Linked DNA regions of Homo sapiens. The protein of the gene in region 2 interacts with the protein of the main gene of each other region in a pairwise test. Each region holds a gene or a part of one and is shown on either strand. Other genes may lie near its edges.

Evidence for each region. The genes of interacting proteins can lie anywhere in the genome.
Region 1: the proteins of NELFCD (region 2) and FRMD5 interact in a two-hybrid assay, tested with the Homo sapiens proteins (one large-scale study listed by IntAct).
Region 3: the proteins of NELFCD (region 2) and ENDOV interact in a two-hybrid assay, tested with the Homo sapiens proteins (one large-scale study listed by IntAct).
Region 4: the proteins of NELFCD (region 2) and HDAC11 interact in a two-hybrid assay, tested with the Homo sapiens proteins (one large-scale study listed by BioGRID and IntAct).

What each region holds. Positions count from the first base shown.
Region 1 is NC_000015.10:44,188,772-44,192,271, forward strand, and holds part of FRMD5 (FERM domain-containing protein 5), read right to left. Parts: intron 1-3,500. UniProt on the Homo sapiens protein: May be involved in regulation of cell migration. May regulate cell-matrix interactions via its interaction with ITGB5 and modifying ITGB5 cytoplasmic tail interactions such as with FERMT2 and TLN1.
Region 2 is NC_000020.11:58,991,256-58,993,434, forward strand, and holds part of NELFCD (negative elongation factor C/D), read left to right. Parts: intron 1-56; coding exon 57-191; intron 192-625; coding exon 626-765; intron 766-1,742; coding exon 1,743-1,857; intron 1,858-2,179. UniProt on the Homo sapiens protein: Essential component of the NELF complex, a complex that negatively regulates the elongation of transcription by RNA polymerase II.
Region 3 is NC_000017.11:80,418,167-80,421,666, reverse strand, and holds part of ENDOV (endonuclease V), read right to left. Parts: intron 2,250-3,500; exon of another isoform or gene 2,174-2,249; intron 2,121-2,173; exon of another isoform or gene 1,394-2,120; intron 1-1,393.
Region 4 is NC_000003.12:13,504,306-13,506,916, forward strand, and holds the end of HDAC11 (histone deacetylase 11), read left to right. Parts: intron 1-162; coding exon 163-378; 3' UTR 379-2,111; downstream 2,112-2,611. UniProt on the Homo sapiens protein: Responsible for the deacetylation of lysine residues on the N-terminal part of the core histones (H2A, H2B, H3 and H4).

The sequences.
Region 1 (3,500 bases), on a different chromosome or scaffold from region 2:
TGGTCCTGATTTTGAATGGTTTTTCTTGGTGGGCAGTGGTTGTCTGAGGCTTTGAACTGATCTTTAACACACAGGAATGAGTTCTAGGCACTTCTGGAGTGGTCCAGAGCACCTCTAAATACGAAGCAGCAGATGAGGTCATGGTAATTCGGGGAGTCAGAAGTGGAAGGGTGGGGGGTTGAAAGCTATAATCACTGTCAAAGGGGTGTTTTCTGTAGACAAGTGAATGGAGCTATTGTACACAAACTCAGTGGTTGCCAAGCATGTGGCCCAATTATTTTGCCTTCATGAGCATGGCACGGAAGGATCTCTTTAGAGAACTTGATTCACACAAGTTTGTGTTTAGTCTAACGGTAGCAGGCAAAAGCCTGGGGAATTTGAACCTAAGAGTCTTTACAAGTTCCTGCCTCCCAAATCTAGGATATGATACTAGAAAGTTGGTAAGACCACAAAAGTAAAACACAATCTTTAGAAATAATACAACAATTACAACTGTTGAAAGACCAATATAGGGGCCTATCTTGGTCAAAATGTTGACAACAATAATGAAGATCACATGTTGACCTTGGGAGGCAAAAGGTCCATAATTTAAATTTCTCTGAGACAGTTTTAGCCTGATGGAGAAACTGGAGGTTGGGAGTATGTGAACTTAGACCCTCTGTTCCCCCTGGTTTATCTTTGGCTCTACCTGTATTTACAGTGCTTGTAAAAGTCAAGACTTTTTTTTTTTTTTTTGGGACAGAGTCTTGCTCTGCCACCCAGGCTGGAGTGCAATGGTGCTATCTCGGCTCACTGCAAGCTCCACCTCCCGGGTTCAAGCAATTCTCCTGCCTCAGCCTCCCGAGCAGCTGGGATTACAGGCATGTAACAGCACACACCTGGCTAATTTTTGTATTTTTAGTAGAGACGGGGGTTTTACCATGTTGACCAGGCTGGTCTCAAACTCCTGATCTCAAGTGATCCTCCCACCTCAGCCTACCAAATTGCCAGGATTACAGGCATGAGCCACCATGTCTAGCCAAAAGTCCAAAGAGTTTTATTGGTCACCAGGGTCTAGGGTCTTAAAAAGGAATGGAAGACCTGCTTCATTTGCTAGGATAGACATATGAATTGGCGATTTGCTGTCTTAGGGGAAACACCATTCTCCCTGCAACATGGGAATGGAGATGCTTTAGTACCCTTCAAATTTCCCAGCTGCATAAGAAAACCACTGAGGTGGTTGGCCTAAGCCCCAAAAAGTCAAGACCAGAAAACAGGGGCAACAACCATCACCTGGCCTCCAGGAAAGCAGCACTGTCCTTCCTGGGCACTACAGAAGTGAGAAACAGAAGCTATAAGGTTGCTGCCAATCCTCCATGATATTCACTTCTTTAGTACAAGCCTTAACTAGACACATTTGAGAGACGAGCAACTCGCAGAGTCAGACAGGATGTTATAGATGAGGCTATCAAAGGTGAATTCAACTTAAAATAGATATAACTAGAAACAGGATGGGAAGCATGGTCCACTTCCTCTTGGAGCAAGAGGTGAGAAAATGAGGCTGTGAGGAGGTCTGTCTCCTCTTTTATGGGGTACTAAGGGGAAAAGTGTGAAGGAAACTTCTGTAGCTATGGTGATCCCTACATCCAAAATCCTAATTCTGGCAGAACTCTAACACTCCATGAAGTACTGCATCACACAGTATTCATTTGATCTAAGCCCTCTAAACTTGCAGAGATGGAGGCAGGGGGACCTGAAAGTTTTGAAATCCTAAGAGACAAACCAAAAAGTCATAGGAGCTATACCAACTGGCACTCCACTAATTCAACAAAGGATAATTGCAGAAATTGACTTCATAAATACCTCAAAGACCTCATAAATACCACACTAACATACTGTACTTCTCACCCGGGAGAGGGGTCACACAGCAAAACGGTTTGTAATGGAATGGATTAAAACTATAAAGAGTTATACAGGTGTTAGAACTGTTTATTGTTTTCAGGAATAAGAAAATTTGAAGTGAAGTTAACATAGCAATCATGTAGCACAAACAAATTAGAACAAATATTTATTGAATTAAAACTATGTAAGGCATCGAACTAGATGTGATAATTCTTAGGGTTTATGATTTATAGCTTTCTCTTAATCTATTATAAACTCTAGAGTGCCTGGCAAGCACAGGGCTCAATACATTTGTTCTCTCCCTCCCTCTCTCACCCTAGCTACCACAGCTACTAAGTGGTTGAGCCACAATCAAATCCAAATATTGGTTATACTATGGAAATGCCCCTGCACACACATTCTATTTATGGTAGTATCTTATTTAACTGCACAATTTAACCTGGCTGCTTAATCCATTATTTTAATATGTCTCTCAGTAAAATCAAATTCATTTCTAGAGTAGCTCACCTTTCAGTAATCACAAAAAACTGATTAACATTTCTGACTTGAAAATAGGTATTTTTTCAACACATATTTCTATTAGAAATGTTGCAATATATATTCTCATAATTTATAAACTATTATAAGCTGAAAGATAGTTCAAAATCTATTCCTGGCCGGGTGCAGTGGCTCATGCCTGTAATCCCAGCACTTTGGGAGGCGAGGCGGGTGGATCACGAGGTCAAGAGATAGAGACCATCCTGGCCAACATGGTGAAACCTCGTCTCTACTAAAAATACAAAAATTGGCCAGGCATGGTGGTGGGTGCCTGTAATACCAGCTACTCGGGAGGTTGAGGCAGGAGAATCGCTTGAACCCAGGAGGCAGAGGTTGCAGTGAGCTTAGATTGCGCCATTGCACTTCAGCCTGGGCAACAGAGCGAGACTCCACCTCAAAAATAATAATAATAATAATAAAATAATCTATTCCTTATAAGCAGGGCATGGTGGTGCACTTCTGTAGTCCCAACTACTTGGGAGGCTGAGGCGAGAGAATCACTTCAGCCCAGGAATTCAAGTCCAGCCTAGGCAACATAGCAAGATCCCGTTTCTTAAAAACATAAAAATTCCTTAGGATATTACATGCCTAAGCACGTAAATGACTCCTTCAGTATACTGAGTTCAAAGATATTAGTTATCTTTTCATTTTTTAATTTTCCCTATTTTCTCCAAATAACAAAGTAAGCTGATAAATGTGGTAAATATATATATATATATATATATATATATATTATATATATATATATATATGTATCTCCATAAATGAAACAGATGAATGAAAAACAGATGAGTAGACCAGATCTGCATTTACGAGGAAATGACCTTCAAAACTGGCAGGGAGCTGTTAACAATGTTCTTCACAGGGGAGCAATTATACTACAACCCTCCTATGTATACTTTCATTTCTCATGGTCTACAAATACATTTGCATATCAGAAAGAGTGAAAGAATAGTCTGGTAACTGTGGCAACCTTCATTGAAAAGATATAAGGCATTTTCATTACCTTAATAATTACATCCTAAATGCCAGATCGGAATAAATGCTGCATTATGAAAGGATAGACAAATACTTTGACAGAA
Region 2 (2,179 bases):
GGGTGAGCAGTGCCCTCACGCCTGCCATCCCGAACTGGGCATATGCTTCTCCTCAGATCCGCGTTCCAGCCTTCCTGGACCTGTTCATGCAGTCACTCTTTAAACCAGGGGCTCGGATCAACCAGGACCACAAGCACAAATACATCCACATCTTGGCGTACGCAGCAAGCGTGGTTGAGACCTGGAAGAAGGTACCATCGGTTCTGGGAATTTGTGGATTTTTTAGGAGACAAATATCCTCCTCTGCTTTGATATTATTTTGGAATTTTGGCTGCAAGAAATCTTGACCCTCCCTAGTATCAGGCATGTGTTTTCTTGTGTTTCTGCGTAGAGAAAGCACTAAACGTCTCCAGAAAATGTGCGTAATGTCTCCAATGCTCTGCAAACCGTAAATTGAAATGTGACTAAAGAAATGAAACTGATTTCCGTAAGACATGGACAAACACTAGTCTCATTGCTTTTCAGTTTCTGTACACTGTGTGACTGTGAAGTTTGACAGCTGAATTGACTCCCAACTTAAGTAGAAATAGGGAAAGTGCTTTGCAAGAAGTGGCCGACACCAGAACACCCCGACAGCAGGGATATCTGCCCTGTCAGGCTCACCAGCTTGTGTGTGTGTTTTCAGAACAAGCGAGTGAGCATCAATAAAGATGAGCTGAAGTCAACGTCAAAAGCTGTCGAAACCGTTCACAATTTGTGTTGCAACGAGAACAAAGGGGCCTCTGAACTAGTGGCAGAATTGAGCACACTTTATCAGTGTATTAGGTAAGCAAAACGAAACTCAGTTCTTAAATCAGTCCTTTGGGGAGGAGGTCGTTTGAGTTTTCATATTGAAAGCTCAAATAACAAAAGCTTCAGCGATACTTGTTCATTTTATTTATTTTTTCATTTTTAAACAGTATGTAGGGAACTTTAAACAGCTTTAGCAGCATGAGTAATTTTCAGATGTTTATTTGCCAGAAGTCTGTTGAGTACAAATTAGGCTAAGTAAAAGATAGCCAGAGTTAACAAAAATTGATTTGAAGGGTCTATTTATAGGTAAAGTTATGCCCACAAAGTATTGCTTACATAGAAATGATTTGTGATTATGCCAATCATATAAATAGACGTGTCCTAGAAATAGTGTGTCCTCTTAGGCATGTCTTTCCCCTAATAATTTATACTAGGGATGAAGAAAGAGTTTGCTAAATAAAGGTAAACTTCAACCCAGTCCACCAAACTCACTGAGTATCACTCATTAATGATCTTTTCCTTTCGATAAGTGGTTTAAAGTGAGCAGAGAATTGAACTCTGCTTCTTGCACCGCATGTTGAGTGGCTGCTGATCCATTCACACTATTTACTAATAAGCAGAGCTTACGCCAGGCACAGTGGCTCTGGCCTGGAATCCCAGCAATCTGGGAGGCCAAGGCAAGAAAATAGTTTGAGCCCAGGAGTTTGAGACCAGTCTGAGCAACATGGTGGACCCTCTCTCTACAAAAAATTAGCTAGACATGGTGGCACTCACCTGTAGTCCCAGGTACTCGGGAGGCTGCAGTGAGCCATGATTGTGTCATTGTACTCCAGCCTGGAAGACAGAGTGAGACCCTGTCTCAAAAAAAAAAAAAAAAAAGGGTTGGGGGGCGTATTGAAGGGTGAATGATGGAGTCATTTGAGTTTGTTTTTAACTTTCCTTTAATGCTTTTCTAGCATATTTTGTGTTTTAAATTGTTTTTTAAAGGAAGCATTCTGCCTTAACTGTAGGTTTCCAGTGGTAGCAATGGGTGTGCTGAAGTGGGTGGATTGGACTGTATCAGAACCAAGGTACTTTCAGCTGCAGACTGACCATACCCCTGTCCACCTGGCGTTGCTGGATGAGGTAAGAGGGCGGAGAGCTGTTCACAGCCTACACAGTGTCTGTCTCATGCTGTTTACGTTGGCATTAACATTGCATCTATTCAGTGAGTTTAGAGGATACTCTTCTCAAAAATAGTTATTTCTGTCCTGAGGATTTTCCTCTTAAGGACCTAGCTTCATTGACTGCAGAAATTTCTTAACCTCAGTCAAGTGTTACTGGAAGCTGATGGCCCTGGCTTAGGTGTCAGGACCTTCTTCCACAGTGATAAGCTCTTTGGTGGCTGTGACAGTGCCCAGTTTCTCTGTGTGCTGAGCGTGACCACACTGCTCAGCGAAGCTCCCTC
Region 3 (3,500 bases), on a different chromosome or scaffold from region 2:
GAACTAGAAGATGTACCCTGCAAATTGGTGGTGGGCAGGTACCCCCGGGACCTGGTCCATAGGAGCAGACCCCCCCAGGACCTGGTCCGTAGCAGCAGCTCCCCCGGGACCTGGTCTGTAGCAACAGCACCCCCACCCCGCCCCCACCGGGACCTGGTCCATAGCAGCAGCCCCCTGGGACCCGGTCCATATGAGAACCCCCACCCCGGACCCGGTCCACTGGAGGAGCCCCAACTCCCAGACCTGATGTGTATAGTAGGAGCCCCTGGGACCTGGTCCATAGGAGGATTCCCTGGTATCTGGTCTGTATGAGGAGCCCCCAGGACCTGGTCCATAGGAGGATTCCCCGGGATCTGGTCTGTATGAGGATTCCCCGGGACCCGGTCCATAGGAAGATTCCCCGGGATCTAGTTCATAGGATGAGCCCCTGAAGCCTAGACTGTAGAAGGATTCCCTGGAATCTAGTCCATAGGAGGAGCCTCCGGGACCTGGTCCATAGGAGGATTCCCTGGGATCAGGTCCGCGGGAGCCCCCCAGGACCTGGTCTTCATCAGAAGCAAGGCTAAGGCTGCTGGCTGCATCACCTCTGCCTGCCCCTTGCTTTCCTGGTGTCTCCTCCTTTGTGTATTGAAGCCGATGCCCCACCCCACCCCTCCATGGGTTGTTGGAGGCTTAAAGAAGACACAGTGTTGGCCAGGCGTGGTGGCTCACGCCTGTAATCCCAGCACTTTGGGAGGCCGAGGCGGACGATCACCTGAGGTTGGGAGTTCAAGACCAGCCTGACCAACATGGAGAAACCCCGTGTTTACTAAAAATACAAAATTATCTGGGCGTGGTGGCGCATGCCTGTAATCCCAGCTACTCGGGAGGCTGAGGCAGGAGAACTGCTTGAACCCAGGAGGCAGAGGCTGCAGTTTAGAGCACAACATGGCAGGCCTGAGTCTCCTAACCTTGTGTTTTCCTTAGTCACACTGCCCTTAATGTGAAGACGTTTCCCACTATGTCCACATTCTGCAGACCTGTCTACCTTCCTGCAGTTTTGTTACTGAATCCCCCAAATCTCTTGGTGACAGCTTTCAAATCACAACTTCCACTCCTCACTTGTGGCTGGATCAATAATTAAACACACCAAAGCAGACGGAGTGCTCTGTATTAGCACAGAGGGTTGGGGATCATTCTCACAACATCTTCATCAATGACTCAATGGGGAAACTGATCAAATCTGCCCATGACCCAAAGTGGGGAGGGTCCATTCTGATAACAGAATTTGGGTTCACAGAGAAGCCAGCAGGCTGGATCACTGACATCCCCACAGAGTAAAAGTCACTTTGCACAGTGACATGTGGAATTCAAGTGTGGCCTGAGTTCCCACAGGAGGGGCGTGGCTGCTTACATCTGAATCTCTCCCATAATGTTATCATTCAGGTGACATTATGGGATGACTATGATGTGTAATCAGTATGATAATGACACTGTGGCTGTGGAGGAGAATGTCATTCTCAGGACAGGCCTGCTGATGTCTTCTGAGCTGTCACAGTCGCTGGGATGTACGGTACACACGCACACAAAGAGCGCATGTGCGCGAGAGAGAATATTCCAGAGCAGCAACAGCTGAACCTAAGTAGAAGGAATACAGGTGTCCAACGTATCCTTTTCCAATTTGGGGGGATGTATGTACATTTTCAAATTAAAAATCTGGGAAAAGAAAAATCACTGTATGATTAGCGTAGGGGGCAGGTCTGGATGACCAGCAATCTCAACATAAGCCAGTGACCTGGTGCCCCTCAAAAGCTACCAGTGTTTCCAGCTACACCGACTGAAATGGCGTGGGTGACAGTTAGGTCTAGGGACTTGGGTAGACCACATCCAAGTTCCTGCATTTGATTCTGAGTGCAGACGGAAAGATGGATTGTGTGAACGGAGGGCATGACCAGAGGGCCACTGACCAGTGAAGAAGCTGGACGTCATCGCAGCCTCTTGGGACAGTGTGGTCAAGGAGCAGGCAGCTGTTTCCAGCAGCAGAAGGGCTGACAAGCAGAAGGCAGGGAAGATCCGTTCTGTTTTGCTACCTGAAGGCAGAACTGATCGATGGGAGTCACAGACAAGTAGGAGTCAGCTCCCTGCGGAGCAGAACACACTAGCCATTGCTCAGCGTCCAGCACACAACAGGCTCCACCAGGCCTGTGGAGCAGCACACACCAGCCATCGCTCAGCATCTGGCATGGAATGGGCTCCGCCAGAGGCCTGCGGAGCAGCACACACCAGCCATGGCTCAGCATCTGGCACAGAACGGGCTCCGCCATCGTTTGTCAGGGATGCTAAGGACAGTGTTCTTCACGGTGGGAAAAGCAGGCCAGTGGTTCTCCAGCCCAGCTCTGCTTCAGAATCACAGGAAAGCTTATTTTAAAAAGCAGATTCTTATGCTATACTCTGGGAGAGTTTTTCCCCCAGTAAGTGGGGTAGGGCTCTGGAATCTGTTTTTTTTTTTTTTTTTTTGACAGAGTCCTGCTCTGTTGCTCAGGCTGGAGTGCACTGACGCGATCTCGGCTCACTGCAAGCTCCGCCTCCCAGGTTCACGCCATTCTCCTGCCTCAGCCTCCCGAGTAGCTGGGACTACAGGTGCCCGCCACCATGCCCGGCTGATTTTTTTTGTATTTTTAGTAGACACAGGGTTTCACCGTGTTAGCCAGGATGGTCTCGATCGCCTGACCTCGTGATCCAGCCGCCTCAGCCTCCCAAAGTGCTGGGATTACAGGCATGAACCACTGCGCCCGGCCTGTTTTTTTTCCTAACAGGTTTACTGAGATACAATTAACATACCATAAAGTTCACTTGTTTAAAACATATAATGCGATGGTTTTGGTATTTACAGAGTTGTGCAATATCACTACAATCTAACTTTAGAACATTTTCCTTAACCCCTAAATAAACCTCATCCTCATCAGCAGTCACTTCCCATCCATCCCACCCCAACTCCAAGGCCCAAGGATCCACTTTCTGTCTCTGTGGATGTGCCTACGGAATCTGTTTCTCAACACACTTCTGGGTGATTCTGCTCCTGCAGGTCCACGGTCGGGCATTCAGGAACCAGTGGACCAGACTGTTCCAAGATCCTTTCCTAGTCTAAGCTTTCATAGCCGGAACAATGAATACCGACGAAGTAGCAGGTGCTTTGCTTGGTGCTGGGGTTGTAAAAGAAATATGGTACACCCTACTCTTGAGAACCTACAGTCAGTGGGAAAAATGGAATCATAAATGACTAACTTTAATACAATGTGAGAAGCGCTCTAACAGCATGTGCATTCAAAAGAGGCCCAGGATGCAGATGAGGTGATTAATTTGCAGCCAGGAGAAGTTGGAGGGGGAAGGGAATGCTGTGTTAACTGCTTTCCATGCATTTCATGTACTGCTCATCACAATTCTGTGAGCTGGATATTAATACCACTATCATCCTCAAGTCAGAAAAAAGGAGACAGAGGCCTAGAGGGCAAAGTGGGGAG
Region 4 (2,611 bases), on a different chromosome or scaffold from region 2:
TGCTCTATGGACTCAGCAGCAGCAGGAAAGGTGGGCGGCCTCATGTCAGGGAGGAGATGGACTGAAGCAACAGCAGTTTGGAGCAGGGCTAGCCCTGCAGCAGGACTTCCTGACACCATGGGGGTCTGGCCTGCCTGAGTCACCCTCCTCTTCCCCTAACAGGGCATCGTGAAGCGGGATGAGCTGGTGTTCCGGATGGTCCGTGGCCGCCGGGTGCCCATCCTTATGGTGACCTCAGGCGGGTACCAGAAGCGCACAGCCCGCATCATTGCTGACTCCATACTTAATCTGTTTGGCCTGGGGCTCATTGGGCCTGAGTCACCCAGCGTCTCCGCACAGAACTCAGACACACCGCTGCTTCCCCCTGCAGTGCCCTGACCCTTGCTGCCCTGCCTGTCACGTGGCCCTGCCTATCCGCCCCTTAGTGCTTTTTGTTTTCTAACCTCATGGGGTGGTGGAGGCAGCCTTCAGTGAGCATGGAGGGGCAGGGCCATCCCTGGCTGGGGCCTGGAGCTGGCCCTTCCTCTACTTTTCCCTGCTGGAAGCCAGAAGGGCTTGAGGCCTCTATGGGTGGGGGCAGAAGGCAGAGCCTGTGTCCCAGGGGGACCCACACGAAGTCACCAGCCCATAGGTCCAGGGAGGCAGGCAGTTAACTGAGAATTGGAGAGGACAGGCTAGGTCCCAGGCACAGCGAGGGCCCTGGGCTTGGGGTGTTCTGGTTTTGAGAACGGCAGACCCAGGTCGGAGTGAGGAAGCTTCCACCTCCATCCTGACTAGGCCTGCATCCTAACTGGGCCTCCCTCCCTCCCCTTGGTCATGGGATTTGCTGCCCTCTTTGCCCCAGAGCTGAAGAGCTATAGGCACTGGTGTGGATGGCCCAGGAGGTGCTGGAGCTAGGTCTCCAGGTGGGCCTGGTTCCCAGGCAGCAGGTGGGAACCCTGGGCCTGGATGTGAGGGGCGGTCAGGAAGGGGTACAGGTGGGTTCCCTCATCTGGAGTTCCCCCTCAATAAAGCAAGGTCTGGACCTGCCTTCCCAGGCCCTTCTGTGGGGGTGAAGGTGGGGAAGGCCTGCGGCGCCCAGATCACTGCCTTAGCAGTAGTCTTGCCTGTTCAGTGCAAGGGGCAGGTTTTGGGGGGAGGAATTCTTAGCGCAAGGACGGGCCTCAGCCCTGTCGCCTCCAGGGGGCCGCTGACCCAGGTGGGGAGAGGGCAGAAGAAGGGTGGGGGACGTGGGCAGGCCAGGCTCACAGGTGGAAATCAGGGATGCAGGGTGGTGCCCAAGCCAGGTCCTGCAGGAACCCAGGCCCAGGGAGGGACCCAGACACTGGTGAGGCGGGGCAGGGGTTCCTGGAGAGAGGGCAGCGAGGATCTCTATCCTGGCCTGGGGATTATGAACATAGGTAGCCGGGGCAGGGCCCTGGGTGGGACTGTGGCCTCCACTGGCCTCACCAAAGTGCCTGGGCCCCAATCCTTCTCCATGCCCAGGGGCCCCAGGTGGGCCAGACCTCTGGCCTGTTCCTCAGCCCTACTCATGGGGACATTCAGGGACCTCCAGGAAGTGGGCGGGGGAGCATCCACCCCTGCTAGCCGGCAGCTGTGGCCCTGATCAAATCAGGGGCTGGGGAGGGAAAGTGGGTCCATTGAGGTGGCCCTGCTCCATCAGCCCCCTACGGGACTTGTGTTCATTACAGTGAGGGGGTGCTCCCACTGTCTCCCGGCCTCCCTAATGCTCCCTCTGCTGCAGGGAGAAGGGTTCCAAGATCACAAAATGTCAACAATGCTGGCCTCCTGGACCAGACCCCGAGGCTCTAACAATGCACTCTGAGATCCCTACCCTTGCCGTTGGTCTCTGTCGCTGACTCGAGGCACCTAACATCCATTCACACCCAACACAGGCCAGCGACTTCTGGGGCTCAGCCACAGACATGGTTTGTCACTGTTGAGCTTCTGTTCCTAGAGAATCCTAGAGGCTTGATTGGCCCAGGCTGCTGTGTGTGCTGGAGGCAAAGAATCCCTACCTCCTAGGGGTGAAAGGAAATGAAAATGGAAAGTTCTTGTAGCGCAAGGCCTGACATGGGTAGCTGCTCAATAAATGCTAGTGTGTTATTTCATCTTCTGAGTCCTGTGGAGTTGGTAATGATTCCCATTTCACAGATGAGGAAACTGAGGCTTGGCAGGGGTGAGAAATTTGCCCCAGGCCACACCTCCCAGCAGATCTCAACAGTGGTAGAGCCAGGCTTGAATCCAGCTCTGCCAGATCCCAAAGTAAAAGTTCTCAGCTGCCTCACACTTGGCAGGGGGGTGGGGTGGGGGTGGGGGGTTACTCTGGACAGAGAAGGGTCTAGGATCCCAGGGTGATAAGGTCACTGGGCTGGGGTCTGGGACAGCCTGGGAATGGGTGGGCAGGCACAGCTGGGCTGTGATGGTGGCTCTGCTGCACAGTGGGAGGGGGCCCTGGCAGGGCAGTGGGTGGATGGGGTGTCTTCCAGGCCTGGGGTGCTTTTGGAGCGCTTATGGGGATGGGCTGCCCCGAGATGAGGCTGGGCTGGGGTGGGGTATCCAGGCAGGGGGAAAGGCAGAGCCTTGGCCGGGCAGAGTGACCAGAGCATCC